Regions from separate parts of the Homo sapiens genome. Here all the other regions are linked to region 2. Evidence: fine-mapped expression QTL. A gene starts in region 2. Each other region holds a variant in brackets. All regions are shown on one strand. Distances are between the middles of the regions. Region 1 overlaps CA5A (carbonic anhydrase 5A). Region 2 holds the start of SLC7A5 (solute carrier family 7 member 5). Region 3 holds the start of LOC102724467 (a long non-coding RNA gene).

Evidence for each region.
Region 1: its variant is fine-mapped to the expression of SLC7A5 in blood mononuclear cells (TOPMed, PIP above 0.99).
Region 3: its variant is fine-mapped to the expression of SLC7A5 in whole blood (INTERVAL, PIP above 0.99).

Annotation. Positions count from the first base shown.
Region 1 is chr16:87,891,768-87,899,942 of GRCh38, forward strand. CA5A (carbonic anhydrase 5A) reads right to left here. Exons shown (of 7, transcript NM_001739.2): 6 at 32-187. Among named protein-coding and RNA genes, the nearest start is that of SLC7A5, 26 kb to the left of the region's middle. RefSeq lists an enhancer at 6,068-6,767. The variant A/G (reference allele first, on the strand shown) is at 4,657.
Region 2 is chr16:87,865,926-87,874,100 of GRCh38, forward strand. It overlaps SLC7A5 (solute carrier family 7 member 5), which reads right to left and starts at 3,582. Exons shown (of 10, transcript NM_003486.7): 1 at 2,960-3,582. The coding sequence starts at 3,497. RefSeq lists enhancers at 481-530, 4,136-4,895, 4,340-5,539, 4,896-5,657, a silencer at 3,546-3,895 and a cis regulatory region at 5,619-5,945.
Region 3 is chr16:87,778,850-87,787,008 of GRCh38, forward strand. It overlaps LOC102724467 (a long non-coding RNA gene), which reads right to left and starts at 299. Exons shown (of 4, transcript NR_120309.1): 1 at 1-299. RefSeq lists enhancers at 1-17, 18-883, 234-333, 664-753, 884-1,749 and 2 more. The variant C/G (reference allele first, on the strand shown) is at 3,848.

The sequences.
Region 1 (8,175 bases), 26 kb after region 2:
CGCCATCGTGCCAGTTACGGGCACGGCTCACCTGGCTTGGGGCCACTTCAACGGGCTCCTTCTGGATGATCCAGGTGACCGACTCGGTCAGCGGCGGGGTGGTGAGCGAGCCCGCGTAGGTCCAGTAATCCCAGCAGGTGGGCAGCAGAGTGGAGGGGTCGAAGGGGCGCATGGCCGCCCGCGCGTCCTGAGAGACCGAGAAGCACAGGACGTGTCAGTCCTCAGGGGAGACTAGGAGCTTCCATCTTGTCTCAGCACGTGAGGCCTTCATGGTGCTTGGAAGGAAGTGCTTTCCCCCAGATAAGGCCATGAGGCCACTGCTGTCACACTTGCAAGCAGTGATGAGAAAATGTGACCCTTCTATACAGAGCAAGGATTCCTGCCAACTTACATTGGTGGGAATTACGTTACATTACACCAGCTTACGTTGGTGCTCACATTTTTCCTTTTGAAGTCATTTCTTGGGGCGCAGTAGCTCACCCCTGTAATCTCAGCACTTTGGGAGGCCGAGGCGGGTGCATCACTTGAGGTCAGGAGTTCGAGACCAGCCTGGTCAACGTGGTGAAACCCTGTCTCTACTAAAAATACAAAAATTATCCAGATGTGGTGGTGGGCGCCTGTAGTCCCAGCTACTCAGGAGGCTGAGGCAGGAGAATCGCTTGAGCCCAGGAGGCAGAGGTTGCAGTGAGCCGAGATCATGCCACTGCACTCCAGCCTGGGCAACAGAGTGAGACTCTGTCTCAAATAATAATAATAATAATAATAATAATAATAATAATAATAATAATAAATTAATTAATAATAAAAATAAAAATAAAGCCATTTCTTTTAGCATACCTTGGCTGCAAAAAATATTACTTTTTATTGTGATAAAATATACATAACATAAAATTTACCATCTTAACCTTTTTTTTTTTTTTTTCGAGATGGAGTTTTGCTCTTGTTGCCCAGGCTGGAGTGCAATGGTGTGATCTTGGCTCACCGCAACCTCTGCCTCCCAGGTTCAAGCGATTCTCCTGCCTCAGCCTCCAGCGCCTGCCACCACGCCCAGCTAATTTTTGTATTTTTAGTAGAGACAGGGTCTCACCATGTTAGCCAGGCTGGTCTTGAACTCCTGACCTCGGATGATCCACCCGCCTTGGCCTCCCAAAGTGCTGGGGTGAGCCACTGTGCCCGGCCTATGGGCTCCTTTTTAAGGAGGGAGTCATGGTGGCCAAGAAGGATGTCCACATGCCTAAGCACCCGGAGATGGCAGACAAGAATGTGCCCAACCTTCATGTCACGAAGGCCATGCAGTCTCTCAAGCCCCGAGGCTGCCTGAAGGAACAGTTTGCCTAGAGACATTTCTTTCTTTCTTCCTTTCTTTCTTTCTTTCTTTCTTTTTTTTTTCAGACAGAGTCTCCAGGCTGGAGTGCAGTGGTGCGATCTCAGCTCACTGCAGCCTCTGCTTCCTGGGTTCCAGCGATCCTCCTGCCTCAGCCTCCCTAGTAGCTGGGACTACATCTTCACGCCATCGCGACCAGCTAATTTTTTATATTTTTAGTAGAGACGGGGTTTCACCATATTAGTCAGGATGGTCTCGATCTCCTGACCTCGTGATCTGCCCACCTCGGCCTCCCAAAGTGTTGGGATTACAGGCGTGAGCCACCACGCCCGGCTTGCCTGGAGACATTTCTACTGCTACCTTACCAATGAGGGCATCCAGTATCTCCGTGATTACCTTCATCTGTCCCTGGAAACTGTGCCTGCCACCCTATGCTGCAGCCGTCCAGGGACTGGCAGGCCTCGGCCTAAAGGTCTGGAGGGTGGGCGACCTGCAAGACTCACAAGAGGGGAAGCTGACAGACATACCTACAGACGGAGTGCTGTGCCCCTGGTGCCGACAAGATAGCCGAGGCTCGGGCTGGGTCAGCAACCGAATTCCAGTTTAAAGGCAGATTTGGTCGTGGACATGGCCAGCTACCTCAGTAAAATCAGAGAGGATTATTTTGCATTGAATACACTCACAGCCAAAAAACAAAAAGAGTCAGGGTCTTACTTTGTCACCCAGGCAGGAGTGCAATGATGCCATCATAGCTCACTGCAGGCTCTAATTCCTGGGCTCAAGCGATCCCCCCGCCTCAGTTTCCCAAGTAGCTAGGACACCACACCAGGGTTTAAAATTAATTGTTTGTAGCCAGGGGGTCTTGCCATCTTGCCCAAGCTGTTCTCCAACTCCTGGGCTCAAGCGATCCTCCTGCCTTGGCTTCTCAAAATATTGGGATTACAGGCATAAGCCACTGTGCCCAGCCAGCTCTTTTGGATATATACCCAGAAGTGTGTGATTGCTGAATCATAGGGTAGTTCTATTTATAACTTTTTATTTTTTTTATTTTTTTTGAGGCAGAGTCTCACTCTGTCTTCCAGGCTGGAGTGCCGTGGCATGATCTCAGCTCACGGTGGTTGGGCCTGGCCGCAACACAGCCCTCATCAGCGTCCCATGCCAACCAAGCATAGCTCTGCACCTGCCCCTGGCCAGCACTGTGGGACAAGAGTCCAGTCCAAAGTGACAGAGTCCCTGTCTGCAAGGAAGATGGCCTCCCTGCTCAGCCACATCACATCACCTTGACTTTGCTGGGCCCTGGCCTTCCAAGGTGGAAGCTGGCAACCCAGATGCCTTGGGCTTGTCTCCTAACATCAAGCAGTGAGGGTCAGGGTCAAGAGAGGTGGCTGAGCTACCAGAAGGAAGCCCGGGAGTGTCCACACTGGCAGACACATGCATCAGTTCTATGCACGCATGTTCACGTTTATAATTATCCAGTTAATTAAAAAAAAAAAAACAGCATTATAGGCTGGGCACAGTGGCTCATGCCTGTAATCGCAGCATTTTGGGAGGCCAAGGCAGGCAGATCACCTGAAGTCAGGAGTTCAAGACCAGCCTGACCAACATGGCGAAACCCCATCTCTACTAAAAATACAAAAATTAGCCAGGCATGGTGGCAGGTGCCTGTCATCGCAGCTGCTCGGGAGACTGAGACACAGGAACTGCTTTGGCACAGGATGCAGAGGTTGCAGTGAGCCGAGATGGCACCATTGCACTCCAGCCTGGGCAACAGAGAGAGAGACTCTGTCTCAAACAACAGCAGCAGCAGCAAAACCCACAGCATTATTGTGATAGAATTCACATACCATGCAACTCTCCCATCTAAAGTGTACAGCCTGGTTGGGCGCAATGGATCATGTCTGTAATCCCAGCACTTTGGGAGGCCGATGTGGGAGGACTGCTTGAGGCCAGGAGTTTGAGACCAGCCTAAGCAACATAACGAGACCCTGACTCTACAAAAAATACAAAAACTAGCCAGGTGCAGTGGTGCACGCCTGTGGTCCCAGGTAGTTGGGAGGCTGAGGTGGGAGGATGGCTTGAGCCCCGGAGGTTGAGGCTGCAGTGAGCTGTGATCATACCACTGCACTCTAGCCTCGGTGACGGAGTGAGATCCTTTCTTAAAATAAGTAAATAGGCTGGGCACGGTGGCTCACGCCTGTAATCCCAGCACTTTGGGAGGCCGAGGCGGATGGATCACCTGAGGTCAGGAGTTCGAGACCAGCCTGACCAACATGGCGAAACCATGTCTCTACTAAAAATACAAAATTAGCCAGGCGTGGTGGCGCATGCCTGTAATCCCAGCTACTCGGGAGGCTGAGGCAGGAGAATCACTTAAACCCGGGAGGCAGAGGTTGCAGTGAGCTGAGCTCATGCCATTGCACTCCAGCCTGGGCAACAAGAGTGAAACTCCATCTCAAAAAGAAAACAAAAAACAAAAAACAAAAAAAGTAAATAAAAATTGAAGGGTACAGTTCTATGGTTTTGGGTATATTCACAGTTGTGCAGCCATCCCAAGTCAATTTTAGAACTTCCACCTCAAGGGGGAAGCTTGGTACTTTTTAGCTATGGTCCCCACCCCCGCCCTGCTGCTTCTGTCTCTGTGGGTTTCATAGGAACTGAGTCATGTAACATGTGGAACATTTGTGTCTTGTGTCTCTCACTCAGCACGGCGCTTTTGAGGCTCACCCACACCGCAGCATGAGTTAGAGCTGTGTCCTTTCTGATTGCCAAGTAATATCTCACTGCATGGTCTAGCTGGGTTGACATCCCATTGCACGCTCTAGCTGGGCTGTGAAGGAGCAGACTGCTTGTGCATGTGGGTAACAGGCGGGTGTGCAGTGAGACATCAGTCTGGTGCACGTGGGTAACAGGCGGGTGTGCAGTGAGACGTCCGTCTCCTCCTGCCTGCCACACATCCCCAGGGCACAGATGTGCCAGTCACTTTCTGAGCAACTACTTCAAATCTTCAGAACAACCCTTTGAGAAGTATTTCTAGTTTACTGATGAAGATAGACAGACAGATATAAAAAACTTGCCCAAAGCCACGTTGCCAGTCAGGGCCACTGAGGCCTGGCCCGTTCCGAGGTGCGGGCTCTTCCTTCCCTCCCCAAGGCTGCAGGAATCAGTCAGGGGAGTGGCAGGCTCCAGCCATGCCACTGCGGGTAGGTTTCTTGCCAATTAAGCTTTCTGCCTTGGGCTGAGAAGAGGATGCCTGTGTGTTGCCTCATCGTCCCCAGGAGTTCCTGTCCTGTCTCTAAGATGCATGAGGGCTGGAGCAGCCATGTGGTTACAGA[A/G]AACTGCTCCCCCTCAGGGCCCCCAAAGCAAATCAGGGCCCTTCCTTTATGCATGTGGTGATCCTCAGGCAGCTAGAATGGGACACCGGTGAGCACACCAATGAGGCTGAAGACCATCACATCCATTATCTGAGCACGGATGGCCCAGCTACCTGTGGAAAGCACCACAAGCCTTTGCTGGTGGAAGTGGGTTGGTGACTTGTTCCACTTTTCTTTTATTTATTTATTGTTTTTGAGACAGAGTTTCACTCTTGTTGCTCAGGCTGGAGTGCAATGGCACGATCTCGGCTCACCACAACCTCCACCGCCCAGGTTCAAGCGATTCTCCTGCCTTAGCCTCCCTAGTAGCTGGGATTACACGCATGCGCCATCACGCCTGGCTACTTTTCTGTTTTTAATAGAGATGGGGTTTCTCTATGTTGGTCAGGCTCGTCTCAAACTCCTGACCTCAGGTGATCCGCCCGCCTCAGCCTCCCACAGTGCTGGGATTATAGGCGTGAGCCACGCTCTGTTCCTGGTTTTGTCTTCTTTCTCTTAAACAGGACCCCACATTTTATGAGCGTCAAGCCCCACCCAGCCTAACTCCGCCCTTGCTTTGTCCTCTTAGAGTCTCAGTTTCCCCAGGTGTACGACAGGCAGTGTGGTGGCGGTAATGGGCTTCCATCAGTGCCTGCCACGTGGGCGTGGGGCTCAGTAGGTGCTGCCGCTGCTGCTGCCAAAGCTAGAAGAGCCCCCACAGGGCACAGAGCCGTTCCCTGGATCCCCTGGACCTGGTGGGCTGTTTCCACCTCCACAAGGCAGCCAATTCCCCGGTAGCTCTGACTGTTGCGAAGGCAGGGAGGAGGGGGGACCCCAGCAGCCTGAGGAGCTTGCGGCTTGTCCAGGCATGGAGGGTGGGGACCCTCTGTGGGCAGTTTTTGCCAAAACTTCTGGCTATGGTGAGAGGGTCAAAGGCGAAGCCTTGAGGTCTCCATTCTGGAATTGTCTGCCCGGGGTCACCAGGACCACACTGGGGCTGTGCCTGCGTGCTGGGAGCTGAGTGCATAGTGACAGGTCGGCACTGGTAGGGGCCTGTGCAGATGGGATGGTGCTGGGGGTGGGGGTGGGGGTCCAGGCTTCCAGGCAGCGCCTGATGTGGTTTTGGTTACAGACACTGCCTGTGTTTCCCTCTAAGCTGCTGAAAAGCTCAGAAATGTGCAGCAGGGGCTGGAGCTCAGCCTGGGTTCTGACTGCATGCGGGAGGTGGGCGCCAGGATGACTGGGACTTCAGGCTGCGTGGACCCACTTCCTGGGTTTAAAAACGGGCTCTTCACCTGCCAGCTGTGTGCTCGGGCAAGGCCTTCTCTGCCTCTCTGAGCTTTGGTTTTCCTGTGTGTGCAAGACAGATGAATCACAGGCCCTGCCCCGTGGAGTGATTGGAAGATTCAGTGTGATAATTTATGTGGAGGGCTGTCGCTTCTTTGAACCCCTTCCGCCGAGGTGTAGGGTGATGTCCCCTTGCCCTGAGCCTGGGCAGGTGCTCCTGACGGGAGTGGTAAACAGGATGCCGCAGGAGCAGTGCTTTGTGACTCTGGAAGCCAGGGCAGAAAAGGACATCGTGTCCATCTGGCTCTTTCTGGAAATGCACCCTTGGAGCCCTGAGCACTGCATAGAAGCCAGCTGGGTCCCCAGGGAGTGACCGTGGCAGGCATTCCTGGAGGGTCTCTGCCGAGTCAGTCCCACAGCAGGGCCCGGACCAGCCTGGAACCAGGAGAGATGATGGGGACTACGTGACTCTGGTCTTTCCTGCCCTAATTCAGGACAACTTGTTCCTTAACTGGAGGAAACCAGGAAAGCAGCCCAGAAGCTGCAGGTGAGCCCGTCCCTGGGTGAGAACTGCTGAGTCCGCGGGGGAGTGGCAGAGCTGGGATTTGAAGCCAAGGCCATCTGCCCTTGAGCCTGAGGCCACCATGGCCCTGTCCTGCCCTGCACTGCCCACCAATCAGGAATTAGATTCAACCACACTTCTAGCATTTTCCATCACAAGGCCATCATTCTAAAATTTCATGGGCTCCCAGAAGGTAATAGCTCTCTCTGGGAATCACCTGACAGAAAGCACCCGCAGCAACAAAAAGCGATTTTAACCTTAGTGATTGGGCTGGTGGATTTTCGTTTCGTGACGGGCAGCAGCAGCCTGTGCCTTCCACAGCAGACTTGAGTGTGTGAGTGTTGGCCACAGCTGGGCCTTAAACTCAACTGCACATTTCACCAAGAACCAGACATGCTCCTTATTCCATTACATGGTGAGAATGCTGCTCTAGTGTGGATTTTTTTTTTTTTTTTTTTTTTGGAGACGGATTCTCGAGCTGTCACCCAGACTGGAGTGCAGTGGCACGATCTCGGCTCACTGCAACCTCCGTCTCCTGGGTTCAAGCGATTCTCCTGCCTCAGCCTCCTGAGTAGCTGGGATTACAGGAGTGTGCCACGATACCCAGCTAATTTTTGTATTTTTAGTAGAGACGGGGTTTTGCCATGTTGGCCAGGCTGGTCTTGAACTCCTGACCTCAGGTGATCTATTCACCTCAGTCTCCCTAAGTGCTGGGGTTACATGTGTGAGCCACCATACCTGGGCTACTGTGGATGTTTAATATCTCCATTTCACAGGCGAGGAAGCTGAGGCTCAGAGGTGCGCAGCTCAGGAGTGGTGGATCTGGGCTCTGAACCCAGGAGTCCAACTGTGGGGCTCTCTGATACACTGTGCTATGGGAGAAGCTCCCAGAAGTCCTAGGCTAGGAGCCTCTAGGCGAGAGAGTTGTTCAAGTCTCTTCCCATTCCCTGGCCCATGAAGCACAGACTCTTGCTCCCAAGGCTGGGCCTTTTACCTCCTAAGGTCTTTTTTTTTTTTTTTTTTTTTTTTTTGAGATGAGTCTCGCTGTGTCACTCGGCCTGGAGTGTAGTGGCACAATCTGAGCTCACTGCAACCTCCACCGCCCAGATTCAAGCAATTCTCCTGCCTCAGCCTCCTGAGTAGCTGGGATTACAGGCACCCGCCACCACGCCTGGCTAATTTTTGTATTTTTAGTAGAGATGAGGTTTTATCATGTTGGCCAGGCTGGTTTTGAACACCTGACCTCAAGTGATAAGCCCGCCTTGGCCTCCCAAAGTGCTAGGATTACAGGCGTGAGCCACCGCACCCAGCCTCTTAAGGTCTTTTAATTTCTCAAAGGTCTAACTCGGCCAGGTGCGGTGGTTCACGCCGGTAATCCCAGCAATTTGGGAGGCCAAGGTGGGCAGATCACTTGAGGTCAGGAGTTTGACACCAGCCTGGCCAACATGGTGAAATCCCGTCTCTACTAAAAATACAAAAATTAGCCAGGCATGGTGGTGGGCGCCGGTACTTCCAGCTACTCATGAGGTTGAGGCAGGAGAATCACTTGAACCTGGAAGGCGGAGGTTGCAGTGAGCCGAGGTCGCACCATTGCACTCCAGCCTGGGCAACAGAGCGAGATTTTATCTCAAAAAAAAAAAAAAAAAAAAAAA
Region 2 (8,175 bases):
CAGGAGAATCGTTTAAACCCAGGAAGCAGAGGTTGCAGTGAGCAACGAGCCTGGGCAACAGACACAGACTCTGTCTCAAAACAAAATCAAAAACAAAAAGCAAAAAACCACATACCCTTTTCCCATTTGCACAAAGCTGGGAAACCCCAAATGCCCTCCACAGGGTTCTATGGGGGGGCGGGGGTGCGGTGAGCACACTTGTTCCTGCCGACACAGGGAAGTCTTCTTAGCAGCTAAAGAGGGCAGCCTCTGCGTACTGCCTGGGAACATGGCAAAACCATTTTAGGCTTTAAAAAAAAGGTGGAGAACAAGTTGTACATTATGATCTTTTAAATAAATAGGCCAGCGATATATTTGTAACAGAAGCAGCTCCGGAAGCATACACTGTCAGCCGCAGAAACTCTGGGGGTCGGGGGTGGTAAAGGAGGAGAAATGTGTCACCCAGGCAGGAGCTCAGTGGCACCATGCTTGGTTCAAGCAGTTCTCCTGCCTCAGCCTCCGAGTAGCTGGGACTACAGGTGTGCGCCATGACGCCCAGCTGATTTTTGCTTTTTTTTTGAGATGGAGTTTCGCCTTGTTGCCCAGGCTGGAGTGCAGTGGTGCGATCTCAGCTCACTGCAACCTCCACCTCCTGGGTTCTAGTGATTCTCCTGCCTCAGCCTCCCGAGTAGCTGGGATTACAGGCATCTGCCACCACACCCAGCTAATTTTTTGTATTTTTAGTAGAGATGGGGTTTCACCATGTTGGCCAGGCTGGTCTCGAACTCCTGACTTCAGGTGATCCGCCTGCCTCGGCCTCCCAAGTGCTGGGATTACAGGTGTGAGCCACAGTGCCTGGCTGGTTTGAATTTTTAAATGATGATGAATTCATGTATGACTGATGTGATTTTTATTAGAAAGAGAAAACTAGGCAGCGCCCCATCCTACGTCTCCTTCCTGGTGGCCAATGAAGCATTTCCCACGACTCACTCCTGGCACCAGCAGGAAGTCAGAGACTCAGCACCCAGGGGCTGCTTTTTTTTTTTTGAGACAGGCTTGCTCTGTCACCCAGACTGGAGTGCAGTGGCGGGATCTCAACTCACTGCAACCTCCACATCCCGGAGCATGCCTCAGACTCATAAGCAGCTGGGATTACAGGCGTGAGCCACTCTGCCCGGCTAATTTTTGTATTTTTAGTAGAGATGGGGTTTCACCATGTTGGTCAGGCTGGTCTCGAACTCCTGACCTCGGTAGATCCGCCCGTCTCGGCCTCCCAAAGTGCTGGGATTATAGGCGTGGGCCATCACACCCAGCCAACCAGGGGTTCATTTTTTAAAGATAAGAGTGCAGGCTGCGTAAGCTACTATCCATGTCGTTACATACCGGGCCGACATGTACCTAGGCGGGAGGGAGACTGAACCAGTGAAATTCTAATGACAAAAAAAGAAATCAGAGTCATCCCCTACATTCACATCTCCAACGCCCAGCTGGAAGGCACAGGCTCTCCCCACTGCTGTCCTGCTACGATTTTTCCCGGCTTTGACCTGCATGGTGGTGCGGCTGCTCGACTCAGAGCCTCAGAGAAACCACACAGAGCCCTGCTGAGTCTTGCCCTCGGGGCATTCTCACATTTATGAAGAAATGCCTCCCCCTCCCCCTCCCCCCCAAAGTACGGTGTGGCAGAAAACAGCGCCAACAGGTCCTGCCAGTCAGAAGCCACTCCCCTGATTTCATGGCTCAAGACCCCAACTATAAATTAGCCCTTCCCACCTTGAATGTGTACACACACTATTGAGATGCAGGCCGATCCATGCCATGGGATGAATCTGAGAATTGCCAAGACCCACCTTCCCACGCCACCCAACCAAATCATGTGGCATCTGCTACAAGTGATTTTCCCCCTGAAATCCCACAAGAAAACTATTTTGAGGCCGGGCACGGTGGCTCACGCCTGTAATCCCAGCACTTTGGGAGGCCGAGGCGGGCGGATCACAAGGTCAGGAGATCGAGACCATCCTGGCTAACACGGTGAAACGCCGTCTCTACTAAAAATACAAAAAAAATTACCCGGGCGTAGTGGCGGGCACCTGTAGTCCCAGCTACTCGGGAGGCTGAGCCAGGAGAATGGCATGAACCTGGGAGGCGGGCTTGCGGTGAGCCGAGATCGTGCCACTGTACTCCAGCCTGGGCGACTGAGCGGGACTCAGTGTCAAAAAAAAAAAAAAAAAAGAAAGAAAAAGAAAAAGAAAACTATTTTGAAAAGCAGTTATCTCTGGCCTGGTGAAGAACACACCAGCACCATGCCCACCAAAACAGGAGCCCCATGGCTGTTTCCCAGAGAAACCTGGGACCCGCACGTCCATTCACTGCAACACAGACTGAATCTGCAGCCAAGCTCCGCTCTCTCACTACTGGGAACCCTCAGGGGGGATCCCTTAGCCTAAATCAGCACCAGTCACTACCCGCACACGATGTTATTACTACTGTTTTCTTATGAGTCAGCCCGTGTCACTGATTCCTGACGAGCTGGTGTGGAGAGCAGAAATGAATGATTTTTTTTTTAACTGCAATTTCCTTCTCACCAACCAGTCAGCAATCGGAGCTCTAACAGTAAACCGATTGCTCAGTTACTCCACGTGGGTGCCACGCAAGAGGCTGGGAGTATTGCTCAGCGGGGCCAACGGGAGGGTGGCACTTGCCTAAACCGCTTAAGTGGGGGAATGGAATGCCCACCGAAGGGCAGGGCAGGGACCCTGCTGTCCCGTCACTGAAGATATTCCCAGCCTGTGGGGAGAAGTGTAAAAGAATGAATGAAAGAAACGCACGTGGTTTCTGGGACCAATGACCTTAGCCTAGAACTGCCGGGATGGTCCAGGAACGTAAAGATGTAGAGATGTGGGAGCCAGGGGCGTAGTGATGCAAGGATGCAGGGACCCAGAGACTACGACCTCCCAACCCCCGGCCCGCGCCCCGTACTCACGCACGCAGAGGCAGGCCACGAGCTTGGCTGCCTCCTCGGGCACCGGGCAGGTGGGGAAGAGCGGCTTGAGCAGGTAGGTGGCGAAGACCAGGGCCACGATGTACTGCGATGAAGGCCGGATGATGAGCAGCTCGATCCAGAGCTTGAGGAAGGCGGGCAGCGAGCCGTAGACCTCCAGCATGTAGGCGTAGTCGCCGCCCGATTTGGAGATGGTGGTGCCGAGCTCCGCGTAGCAGAGCGCGCCCACGATGGAGAAGACGCCGCACGCGGCCCACACCACCAGCGCCAGCCCCGGCGAGCCTGCCTCCTTGAGCACGCCCGTGGGCGTCACGAAGATGCCCGAGCCGATAATGGTCCCCACGATGATGGCCACGCCGTTGAGCAGCGTGATGTTCCGCTGCAGGGTCACGCCCTCGCCCTCGCCTGCCGGCGCCGAGCCGTCCGCGCTCTTGGCGGCCAGCATCTTCTCCCGCGCCTCTTCCTTCTCCTCGGCCGCCGGCGCCGCTAGCGCGCGCCGCTTCGGGCCCGCACCCGCCATGCTCTGCGCACCGGCCGGGCCTGGGACACCCGGGAGCCGCGGCCCAGCGAGCAGTGTGCGCGCCGCCCGCCGCCCGCAGCTGCGTCAGGAACCCCGCCCGCGCCGCCTTTTAGGCCCCGGCCCGCCGGCCCCGCCCACCGTCCGCGGCTCCTCCCCGCCCCGTGGCCCGGCCCCGTCCCTCAGCCCCGCCCCCTCGGCCCAGCTCGGAGCACGTGCGTCGTCCGGCCCAGCCTGGCGGGCTATTCCCAGGCCCGCGTGGTCCTCGAAGGCCCCAGTCCTCCTGCGCCATGGAGACCCCGGCCTCGCGACCTCCCCCCTCCCGGCGCCCGCGTCATCCCAGCCCGTCCTCCCGGATGCGCCTGGGCGGGGCCTGGCAGTCAGGGCGCGCCCCTTCACCCACTGGCCCGCAGCCTCTCGTCAAGCCTGGGAGCGGGCAGTGCACCAGGGCTGGCCTGAGGCCAAGGATGGAGTTTGGGGTACCCCCCGAAGGGAACCTAGGCTCCTGTCCCGGATGGGCCGAGGGGATGGAACCGCCCCCACAACCAGCTCCTGGGGCACGGGGGAGGGATGAGAGGATGACCTGAGGGGAAGCTCCTGCAGCCTCCTTCCAGCCTGGGGGCTGCATCAGTGGGGCTGGTGAGCCGCGAACTGGGACGAGGGAAGAACCGAACCGAGGCCACCCAGTAATTCCCATTGTATCCCAAAAGAATCTTGCCAAAGACGGCGATCCGGTGCCCGTAGCTTTGAGAAGCAGTAATAACACAGGCTTTGGGAAGCCAGCAATCTGCCTGAGCTCAATTTAATCAACAGAACCGGGGGTTCGCTGGGAGCCATAAGACCCCCACCCCCAAATCTACCTGGGGAATTCAAAGGCAGGCTTCAGTGTGAAGGGGCTTTAAAGCTTGTTATTCCTAGGGAATGCGAGAGGCATCTTAGCTAAAAAGGGTTGAGAGGTAATTTCAGTTAGAGGCGAGAGCAGGATGCCAAGGCTCCTAGGCCTGGAAATGGGAAGGAATATAAATACTGCCCCGAGATTGACCAGACTGGTGAGCGGCCAAAGACCTGTTCAAAGGGTGTGTGTGGGTCAGGGAGGAAGCTCCTCAGTATCACCCCACCCCGGGGTTCCTTGGCGTGTGTGCAAACGAGTCCTTGGAAGCTCACAGCAGGCATGTGGGGAGGCCTTTGTTCTGGGTGAGCGTTCAGCCTCCCAGGGCAAACACGCAAACACCGGTTGCAGAGCTGGGTGTTCACAGCAAGACAGTCTGCTGGGCAGATGCCTCTGGAATCCACAGAATTCTGAACAATAGCCGTGGTGGAGGGGGGTCAGAATCCCTGTCGTGCTGGGACCTCTAGCTGCAGCCAGGAATGTCCAGGCCCCACCCCAGGGAGGGGGCGGCTGAGGAATGCCAGGGCTTGTCATTCTGGACCTTGCTCGCCCCCCGGTATGTCGGGCATTCCTCTGCGGTGATAAAACCGAGCGAAATCTCAGCAGCCCAGGCAGCCACAGGCGGGGGAGTGCGGAGGTCACACAGATACTAACTTGTAATCTGCCGTCCACATTGCTGGCTGTGGAAGGTGCAGAGACCCCTCCATCTGCCCTATTCTTCCCGCTGTGCCTGCAGAGGGAAGGAGACAGTACCACCATGGCTGGGCAAACTCACCGAGTGCTCACTGAGTCCTCCCCTAGACAGCTTCTTATGCAATAGGGTAGGTGCCAGTTAGAGCCATTTTGCAAATAAGGAAGCTGAGGCTTGGTAGGGTTACCTCGCTTGTCCGGCCAGCAAGTAGCCTGGGAGCTGTCCTTTTGACTCTGAACTTATATGGTACTTTTAATCATTCCACCATTCTTCTTTGAGTAACAAGAAAGGCAACCAACAGTCATACCCCAAAGCATAAAATTACAACCATGATAAGCCAAGGACATGACAGGGTGAGCCAGCGACAGCGACAGGGACCAGGCAGGTCCAGATAGACTTTTCTGAGGTGGTACCTGGAGCTGAGAGCCCAGGGTGAGTGAGAATTAATAAGGGAGGTGCAGGGGTCCCCACCGGCACAGAGGGGGCCCTGCACAGTTGGTGCAAGTCATGGTTGGTGCCCCCAGAGCCAGGCTCCTGGCAAGTGCTGGAGCCCTTAAGCAGGAAGGGTGACAACAGCCATGAGCGTGTTCAAGTCACACAGCTATTACGCCACCTCTGTCGGTTTTTACTGGGTTTTCATATGACAACATTCTAGATTTATCCAGCAAATCTACTCCTCTCAGACGTCCCTGATGCCGGCCCTGAAACGCCTTCGCCTGAAAGCTATGACTCTAGAATCTTAGCAAAGAGTGCCATCTGTTGGAAAGATTCGGCAGCGTTTTGATTTTTACAGAGGCAGGACAATGGTCTTTTCAGCTCCAGTCAGTAATTTATCACATGTTGTGTATTTTCAGAGGTTAAAAAAAAGAAAGAAAGAAAAGAAAAAAAAGTTGTGGCACTCTCGCTTGAGCTGGTTGGGAGAATACTTTCTTTTCTTTTTTTTTTTTTTGAAACGGAGTCTCACTCTGTCACCCAGGCTGGAGTGCAGTGGCACAGTCTCAACTCACTGCAACCTCCGCCTCCCGGGTTCAAGCAATTCTCCTGCCTCAGCCTCCGGAGTAGCTGGGATTACAGGCACCCGCCACCATGCTCGGCTAATTTTTTATTTTTTGTATTTTTAGTAGAATTGGGGTTAGCCAGGATGGTCCCAATCTCCTGATCTCGTGATCCGCCCGCCTCAGCCTCCCAAAGTGCTGGGATTACAGGCGTGAGCCACCACGCCCAGCGCCCTGCAGGTCCTTTTTAAGGCTGTTTGCAACATAAATGAGACGAGGCATCTTCTGCCCCCCTCAGAGCGCCAGCGTGGAGTTGAGCAGGCCACCCTCTCTCACAAGGCGAACCCGTCATTATTTTGTCATTTGGAGCAACTGCAGGGGAGCAGCAAGGCCACAGGGCGAGGGGAGAGAACCCGGTGGATAATCCTTTGTTTTCTAATTATGAGATGAGTCTCGCAGTGCAGGGATTGTGGTTTTCATCTCAGCAAAATATAGGAGTGAGGTCCGGAGCGGATCCTTGCTCTTCCTTTCAACTCGTTCTTTTTCCCAGGAAAACGACTTACCTGGTAAACCCTGTAAACCAAAAATAAAATTCTAAGGGCCACCCCAGACATCTAAACAGACTTCCTCCTCAGCCAGGGCTCTTAACATTTAACCTGAAAGACTGGTTTGGGCCAGGAAGAGAATCGGGGGTTGGACGGCCTCTTTAGACCTCTCCAGCACTAACACCAACACATACTTGAAGTCTATCAGACTTAAAGATTAACATTTTACAGCCTGTTCTCTTTGAAGCCTCCTAGCTAAAAGCTTCATCTGCATGATACAGCTTTCATCTCCACAGCCTCACCACAACCCAAACATTCCTTCCTTCCTTTCTTTCTTTCTTTCTTTCTTTCTTTCTTTCTTTCTTTCTTTCTTTCTTTCTTCCTTCCTTCCTTCCTTCCTTCCTTCCTTCCTTCCTTCCTTCCTTCCTTTCTTTCTCTCTCTCTCTCTCTCTCTCTCTCTTTCTCTCTTTCTCTCTTTCTTTCTTTCTTGTCTCACTTATCGCCCAGGCTAGAGTGTGGTGGCGCGATCTCGGCTCACTGCAAGCTCCGCCTCCTGGGTTCAAGTGATTCTCCTGCCTCAGCCTCCAGAGTAGCTGGGACTACAGGCGCCTGCCACCACGCCCGGCTAATTTTTTTGTATTTTTAGTACAAACGGGGTTTCACCGTGTTAGTCAGGATGGTCTCCATCTCCTGACCTCGTGATCCGCCCGCCTTGGCCTCCCAGAGTGCTGGGATTACAGGTGTGAGCCACTGTGCCCGGCCTCCAAACATTGCTTTCTACTGATCCCAGGTCTTTTGTGTTTTTCTTTTTTTTTTTGAGACAGAGTCTCACTGTCGCCCTGGCTGGAGTGCAATGGCACGATCTTGGCTCACTGCAACCTCTGCCTCCCGGGATCAAGTGATTCTCCTGCCTCAGCCTCCCGAGTAGCTGGGATTACAGGCACCTGCCACCACACCTGGCTAATTTTTGTATTTTTAGTAGAGGCTGGGTTCCACCAGGTTGACCACGCTGGTCTCGAACTCCTGGTGATCTGCCCACCTCGGCCTCCCAAAGTGCTGGGATTACAGGCGTGAGCCACCATGCTCGGCAACAATCCCAGGTCTTTAGACAACAAACTCAAACAATTGTCAACCAGAAAATGTTTAAATTGGTTGGGCGCGGTGGCTCACACTTGTAATCCCAGCGATTTGGGAACTTTGGGAGGCCGAGGCGGGGGGATCTCGAGGTCATGAGTTAAAGACCAGCCTGGCCAACATGGTGAAACCCCATCTCTACTAAAAATATAAACATTGGCCGAGTGCGGTGGCTCATGCCTGTAATCCCAGCACTTTGGGAGGCCGAAGCAGGCAGATCACTTGAGGTCAGGAGTTTAAGACCAGCCTGGCCAACATGGTGAAACCCCGTCTCTACCAAAAATACAAAAAAATTAGCTGGGCGTGGTGGTGGGCGCCTGTAGTCCCAGCTACTCGGGAGGCTGAGGCAGGAGAATGGCATGAACGTGGGAGGCGGAGGTTGCAGTGACGGGAGATCGCACCACTGCACTCCAGCCTGGGTGACAAA
Region 3 (8,159 bases), 87 kb before region 2:
CTCCCTGTCAGCGTTTCATTCCCTCTTCATATCACATCACTTGGGTCTGTGGTCCAGGTGCGCTGGGGGCAGCGCAGGCCGGGTTCAGGAGAGCTCGGCTCAGCAGCAGCCGATGGAGCTTTCCTGGGGGCTCCTACCTGGCCGCCAGCTCCAGAAGCCAAGCCAGGGGCTCTTCGAGACATGGTCCCACCAGAGGAGAGACCGAGCCTCGGAGAAATGAACGTCCTAGGCCATGGGACTCGGACCCCTCACCCCACCCGCCACACCTGCCAACTTCCCGGCCTGCAGGGTGGCAGGAAGCCTGAGGCATTATTCAGCTTCCTTAGGGCCCGTTGGCTGATGCAACACAGCTCAGAAGTTGAGTCCAAGCACCAAGCCCGCAATGTCTGCGTCGGCCGCCAGGGGTCACTCCTCCCGCGCAGAAGGCGGCCTTGGAGCCTCGCAACCGCAGTATGCGAAGGTTGCATCACCCTCGCGGGGTCTAAGAGGAAGGATGGGGACCAGCCCGCAGGCGGGCCTGAGCCTCCTGGCAAAGCCCTTTGTCAACGTCAACAGAAGCATCTGGCGTCCTTTCTGGTCGCGGACGTCAGAGCTGGCTGCTCCGGCACTCAGCCGGGTGGTTGGTCCCCAGGCAGCCGCTGGGGCCCTGCCACCAGGTCTCACCTGGCCGAGAGGGAGTCAGGATGCCCTCTGAAGCAATGTCCCGAAATCCCAAATTCACCCCTACCCCCAGGTCAATAATGTACAAGAAGCTACATTCCTTTTTTTTTTTTTTTTTTTGAGAGGGAGTCTCACTCTTGTTGCCCAGGCTGGAATGCAATGCCACGACCTCGGCTCACCGCAACCTCTGCTTCCCAAGTTCAAGCAATTCTCCTGCCTCAGCCTCCCAAGTAGCTGGGATTACAGGCATGCGCCACCACACCCTGCTAATTTTGTATTTTTAGTACAGACAGGGTTTCTTTTTTCTTTTTTTTTTTTTTTTTGGAGACGCAGTTTCACTCTTGTTGCCCAGGCTGGAGTGCAATGGCATGATCTTGGCTCACCACAACCTCTGCCTCCTGGGTTCGAGTGATTCTCCTGCCTCAGCCTCCCGAGTAGCTGGGACTACAGGCATGCACCACCATATCTGGCTGATTTTTTTGTATTTTTAGTAGAGATGGGGTTTCTCCACGTTGGTCAGGCTAGCCTCAAACTCCCGACCTCAGGTGATCCACCCGCCTCGGCCTCCCAAAGTGTTGGGATTACAGGCGTGAGCCACCGTGCCCGGCCTGAGACAGGGTTTCTCCATGTTGGCCAGGCTGGTCTCAAACTCCAGACCTCAGGTGATCCGCCTGCCTTGGCCTCCCAAAGCATTGGGATTACAGGCATGAACCACCACGCCTGGCCGTTGAAGCTACATTCTTGTTCCAAAGTTTTAAGCAGGGACTTTGGTGCAGACATAGCAATCTTTTGGGAGGATTAATGGAGGGAAGAAATAGTACCTGGTATTCCCACTGCTCTCACCCACAGCCCCGGGATCCACCTCCTCTTTACCGCCCGGGCCACAGAGAGCACACGTGGGCTCCTTTCCATTTGCTGGTCCGACCCAGCAGTGGTCACCGCTGGAGCCCTGAGACCCCACCAAGGTGTTCTGCCCAGCTCTCCTCATCCACAGAGGACAGAGGGGGTCAGGGGAAATAATATGAATCTGACGCTGGGGACATTTGCAACCCGCAGAGTCACCGCCACCTGGTGTCTCTTCAGTGTCTATGGAGACCAGTAAATGACTGTTTGCTCCACTGTTCTGAAAACAAATGAGTGCAGAAACAATCTTCTTTTGCTTCCTGCCTGGTGAGAGACATGATTGCCAAGAGCTCAGGCCAGGAGCCGAGGGTTTGCTTTTCATCCTAATCTTCAAGGTGGTCATCTTCAAAGGATGTGAGAGGGCAAGAGCTGAGCTCTGCTTCCTGCAAAGAGAACCACACATGTCCCTCAGTGGAGCACCCAGTCTAGCTTTCCTGTGTCTGCCTTCCTCCCTCCACCCACGCCTTCCTCCCTCTGCCCACAAGTCCTTCACCCTCTCCCCACAGGCTCAGCCTTCGGGAGCTATTTCCTGTGGCTTTTTATTCACTTCCTTTTTTTTTTTTTTTTTTTTTGAGATGGAGTCTCACTCTGTCGCCCAGGCTGGAGTGCAGTGGCACGATCTTGGCTCACTGCAACTTCTGTCTCTCAGATTCAAGCGATTCTCCTGCCTCATCCTCCTGAGTAGCTGGGATTACAGGCCTGAACTACCATGCCTGGCTAATTTTTATATTTTTAGTAGAGACGGGGTTTCACCATGTTGGTCAGGCTAGTCTTGAACTCCTGACCTCAAGTGATCCACCCGCCTCAGCCCCCCAAACTGCTGAGATTACAGGTGTGAGCCACCGCGCCCAGCCTCATTTACTTGTTTTGATAATTTTTTTCTTTTGGGATAATCGTAGCTTTGCAGGACAGCTAAGATAGTTCCTGAAGTTCTCCAGTGATCATCTTCCATACAATGGTACATTGGTCAAAACTAAGCAACCAACATTGGTATATTGCCATTAACTAAACCCCAGACTTGCTTTGGATTTCCCTGGGTCTTTTCCTACTTACATCCTTTTCCTGTTCCCATCCAGGATCCTACGCAGGAGACAACATTGCATTTAGATGTGGTTCACTCTTCAATGCAGAGATTTTAGACCCTAACCCATCTCACCCTGTGTAGCTCCAGGTGTGTGGCCTCCTGCTGCTGGGAGGAAACGCACCGAGTCGTGGTGCTCAGTGGCACCCTAAATGCCCTGGGAGCCTGTGAACCCCAAAAATCTGAGACAGGTCTCAATCAATGAAGAAAGCTTATTTTGCCAGGTCAAAGACAGGCACTGTGACACAGCTGAGTCAGGAGAATAGATCCTGGAAGAAGGGAACCGAGAGACTGCCTAGGACTAAATCAAATGTAAGGGCTTGGTACAGTGGCTCACGCCTGTAATCCCAGAACTCTGGGAGGCCAGGCGGGCAGATCACCTGAGGTCAGGAGTTCAAGACCAGCCTGGACAACATGGTGAAACCCCGTCACTACTAAAAATACAAAAATTAGCTGGGTGTAGTGGTGGGTGCCTGTAATGCCAGCAACTCAGGAGGCTGAGGCAGGAGAATCACTTGAACCTGGGAGGCGGAGGTTGCAGTGAGCTGAGAACGTGCCACTGCACACCAGCCTGGATGACAGGGAGAGACTCCATCTCAAAAATAAATAAATAAATAAAATAGAAACACTTCAGCTATGACAGGAAATATCCTCTTTACTTACATAGGGCATCTGTGTAAATGAAGCGTAAATGATTTCATTGACAAATGAGTAAGTGACTTTGTAACTTTACTTCATCCTCTTCATTTACACAGGGCGTACACCAAGTAAATGACTTTGTAACTTCACTTTAGCCTCTTCATTCACAAAGGGCATACACCAAGCAACCAATGGAAACCTCTAGAGGGTATTTAAATCCCAGAAAATTCTGTAACCAGTTTCTTGAGCCCCTATGCTGGGGCCCACTCCTACCTTGTGGAATGTACTTTCTCGTTTTCTTTTTTTTTTTTTTTTTTGAGGTGGAGTCTCGCTCTGTCGCCCAGGCTGGAGTGCAATGGCGTGATCTCAGCTCACTGCAAGCTCCGCCTCCCAGGTTCACGCCATTCTCCTGCCTCAGCCTCCCGAGTAGCTGGGACTATAGGTGCCCGCCACAACGCCTGGCTAATTTTTTGTATTTTTTAGTAGAGACGAGGTTTTACCGTGTTGGCCAGGATGGTCTTGATCTCCTGACCTTGTGATCCGCCCACCTCGGCCTCCCAAAAT[C/G]CTGGGATCACAGGTGTGAGCCACCGCGCCCGGCCTTGTACTTTCGTTTTCAATAACTCTCTGCTTTTGCTGCCTCACTCTTTTTGCTTTGTTTGTGCATTTTGTGCAATTATTTGTTGGACAACACCAAGATGCCAAGAACCTGGACACCGTCCACCGGTAACACAGCCTCAGGGGGTCCTGAGGACATGTACCCAAGGTGGCTGGGGCACGGTTTGGTTTTACACGTTTTAGGGAGACATGGAGACATCAATCAATATATGTAAGATGTACATTGGTTCCGTACAAAGAGGCAGGACAACTCAAGCAGGGAGGGGGGCTTCCAGGTGGCAGGTCGGGGAGAGACAAACCGTTGCATTCTTTTGAAATTTCTGATTAGCCTTTCCAAAGGACGCCATCAGATATGTATGTATCTCAGTGAGCAGAGGTGTGACTGAATAGAATGGGAGGCAGTTTTGCCTTAAGCAGCTCCCAGATTGACTTTTCCCTTTAGCTTAGTGATTTGAGGGCCACAAGATTTCCAAGATTTATTTTCCTTTCACAAGCTGAAGAAGTGGGAGCTGCCTTTGGTGCTCTCCCCATGGACCTGACTCTGGCCTTCCCCTCCCTTTACCCCCATGGGTCCCTTGTCTCTGCAGTTGATTTGCTCACGAGATTCTAAATATCAGCCGTTTACTACTTAGGATAAACCGCAGGTCTTGCTGCAGTATCGCCCGTTGCTGATATGTGCAGATGCCAAGTTCTCTGGATGGGAACCATCTAGAGCCTTGGTAGTCAAAGGCCGGGCGCAGTGGCTCACCCCTGTAATCCCAGCACTTTGGGAAGTCAAGGCAGGCGGATTACTTGAGGTCAGGAGTTTGAGACCAGCCTGGACAACATGGTGAAACCCTGTCTCTCCCAGAAATACAAAAATTTGCTGGGCATGGTGGTGCGTGCCTGTAATCCCAGCTACTCGGGAGGCTGAGGCCGGAGAATCACTTGAACCCAGGAAGGGAGGTTGCAGTGAGCCGAGATTACGCTACTGCACTCCAGCCTGGGCAACAGAGCGAGACTCCGTCACAGAAAAAAAAAGAGTCTTGGTAGTCATGGGGATTGAAGCCTCTTTGGGAGTCCCATCCCTTCGCTCCTTCTGTGCCTGTGACCCCTCACTGTGAAGTGCACACTCCCAGAGTGCCCAGGCCAGGCTGGTTCAGTGCCACCCACCCTCCAGCCTCTCCCAACCCCCCACAGCCAAAGCACCGGCACAGAGGTCACAGGAGACTCAGGCCACGTGGCATCCAGATGCCGACAAAGTGAGTTCTTTACCCAGAAAATGAAAGGGAGACCTTCCCGAGGCGCTTGCCCATCCAACTGTGCAAGGATGACGGGGTTCCACTCAAGCCAACCGAAAACATCCACAGATAAGAATACACAAAATAAAGCCAACCCACAACAAACTCCCAGGACTCAGAATCCAACACGCCTCCCATCGTCGTGTTGTGACCAAGCGAGTTACAGAGAAACGCCACACTTTGAGACAAATTAAAGAGTCTTTTATTAGCCAGCGACCAAGAGGCAGCTAATGCTCAAAATTCTCTCAGCCCTGAGGAAGGGACTAGTTTTGTTTTTATACCGTGGTCTAAACAGCGGAGGCAGGATTTTAGCTGAAGCAATTTTTACAGAAGCAGAACTGGCAAAAAGTTAAAAATTTAATTGGTTACATGGCCGGGCGCGGTGGCTTAAGCCTGTAATCCCAGCACTTTGGGAGGCCGAGGCGGGTGGATCATGAGGTCAGGAGATTGAGACCATCCTGGCTAACGTGATGAAACCCCGTCTCTACTAAAAATACAAAAAATTAGCCGGGCGTGGTGGCGGGCGCCTGTAGTCCCAGCTACTCGGGAGGCTGAGGCAGGAGAATGGCTTGAACCCGGGAGGCAGAGCTTGCAGTGAGCCAAGATCGCGCCACTGCACTCCAGCCTGGGCGACAGAGCGAGACTCCATCTCAAAAAAAAAAAATTAATTGGTTACAAAAAATAAACAGTTCCAGGTGCAGGGGCTTAAACTATCACAAAGAGATAAATGCAGGGGCTTCGGGTGCCATCCACCGAGCGCGTCCCGAGGAGCTGCTGGTGCAGCTTGCCTCTGTATCTTATCAGTAGGTGCATTTCTGGACGTGCTTTGAGTCAGTTTACACTAGTTATGCCTTAAGGGAGGGAGATGAAAGGGGACTGCAGGTGAAGAAACTAAAATGGAGTCTGTCCGGCTCTCTCTCTGCTAGGAGAGAGTAGGCTATCACCGCTGAGCCACAGGGGACGGCAAGTTGTCCATTTTTCCTGCTCAGGGGCCGCTGACCTCACAGCAGCCGGAATGTGGGTGGTGGCATTCCAAGGGCAATCCACATTTCACCGTGATTAGAAAACGAGGCCAACACGGCTCAGGCTCTGAGCATGGCTTCTCTGCACTGGTGACTGCAAGAATATCCCTCATGCCTTTGAAGGGCCATGGAGAAGTTGGCATAGCTCTCCTGGAGTTCCCGAATCTCTCGCCCAAAGTAACTTGGCCCTTCGAGGCAGAATTGGAGAAACAGAACATCCTCACACCCAAGTCCCATTTTCTCTGTGGTGACCTGCAAACCACACTGCACCTTCTGGCTGCGACACCCTCAGATTTCAGGCCAGAACCTTGGAAGAAGTAGGGCCACTCCCTGGTTTCTGATGGGGCCAGAGTGCTGGGTTGGGGACGTTGCCTCCAGAGCTGTCTCTGGGGGCCCTGACGCTGCCGTGTGCTGGGAGTGAAGGAGCTCCTACCTCACGGGCCAAACCCACTCCCGCTCTCTCCCAGGCTCCAGGGATAAAACTGGAGACCACTATGTCTTGCTTTCCGTGTTCTTTCTCCCTGCCATGGCTGGGTGCAGAAGCTGAAGCCGCCTTTGCAAAATTATGACTGCAGCAGTGAAAGAGATCTAATGTAACCGACATCATCTTACTTCTTTTTGGTGGGTGGGGGGGGATGGAGTTTCACTCTTGTTGCCCAGGCAGGAGTACAATGGCACAATCTCGGCTCACTACAACCTCCACCTCCCAGATTCAAGCGATTCTCCTGCCTCAGCCTCCCGAGTAGCTGGAATTACAGGCATGTGCCACCACGCCTGGCTAATTTTGTATTTTTAGTGGAGATGGGGTTTCTCCATGTTGGTCAGGCTGGTCTTGAACTCCCAACCTTAGGTGATCTGCCTGCCTCGGCCTCCCAAAGTGCTGGGATTACAGGCATGAGCCAGTGCGCCCGGCCTTAACCCCTATTTTAAATGTGCATAATTTCTACATTGTCAAATCACAGAGTCATTGCATATGATCACATCTCTCATTTTGTCCTAGTCCTTCAAACAGCTATGCACGTGTATCTCCCACTCCCAGCAGTCCTTCTCTTGATATCTTGTCACTTTGGTTGTCTGAAACCCAGCCTCTAGGAGGTTCCTTAAAAGGCATATAGGGACCAGGTACAGTGGCTCATGCCTGTAATCCCAGCACTTTGAGAGGCCAAGGTGGGTGGGTCACCTGAGGTCAGGAGTTCAAAACCAGCCTGGCCAACATGGCAAAAACCCCGTCTCTACTAAAAATAAAAAAGTTAGCCGGGCGCGGTGGCAGGCATCTGTAATCCCAGGTACTCTAAGGCTGAGGCATGAGAATTCCTTGAGTCCGGGAGACAGAGGTTGCAGTGAGCCGAGATCATGCCATTGCACTCCAGCCTGGGGGAGACAAAGTAGAACTCTGTCTCAAAAAAAAAAAAAAAAAAAGGAGGCTGGATACTGTGGCTCACACCTGTAATTGCAGCACTTTGGGAGGCCAAGGCGGGCAAATCACCTGAAGTCAGAAGTTCAAAACCAGCCTGGCCAGCACAGTGAAACTTTGTCTCTAGTAAAAATACAAAAATTAGCTAGGTGTGGTGGCGCACACCCCTAGTCCCAACTACTCAGGAGGCTGAGGCAGGAGAATCAATTGAACCCAGGAGGCCGAGGTTGCAGTGAGCCGACATTGAGCCACTGTATTCCAGCCTGGGCGACACAGTGTGACTCCATCTCAAAAAAAAAAAAAAAAAAATACAAAGGCTTATGGGAATAATGAGTTCTTGCACGTCGATGTTTTGTCTATGCCCTTTGTACTTGAAGATCGGTTTTGCTTGGTGCGTCTTGAAAGGAGGCCCTGAGCAGTGATTTCTGAGAGTTCACAGAGGATGTAGACCCCAGCCTCTTTAAACATAACCAGAGTCCCCTTGCACTCACCCACTAATGCAGAGAAAACCACTCTGTCAGTGATAATCCTATTACATGTGAATG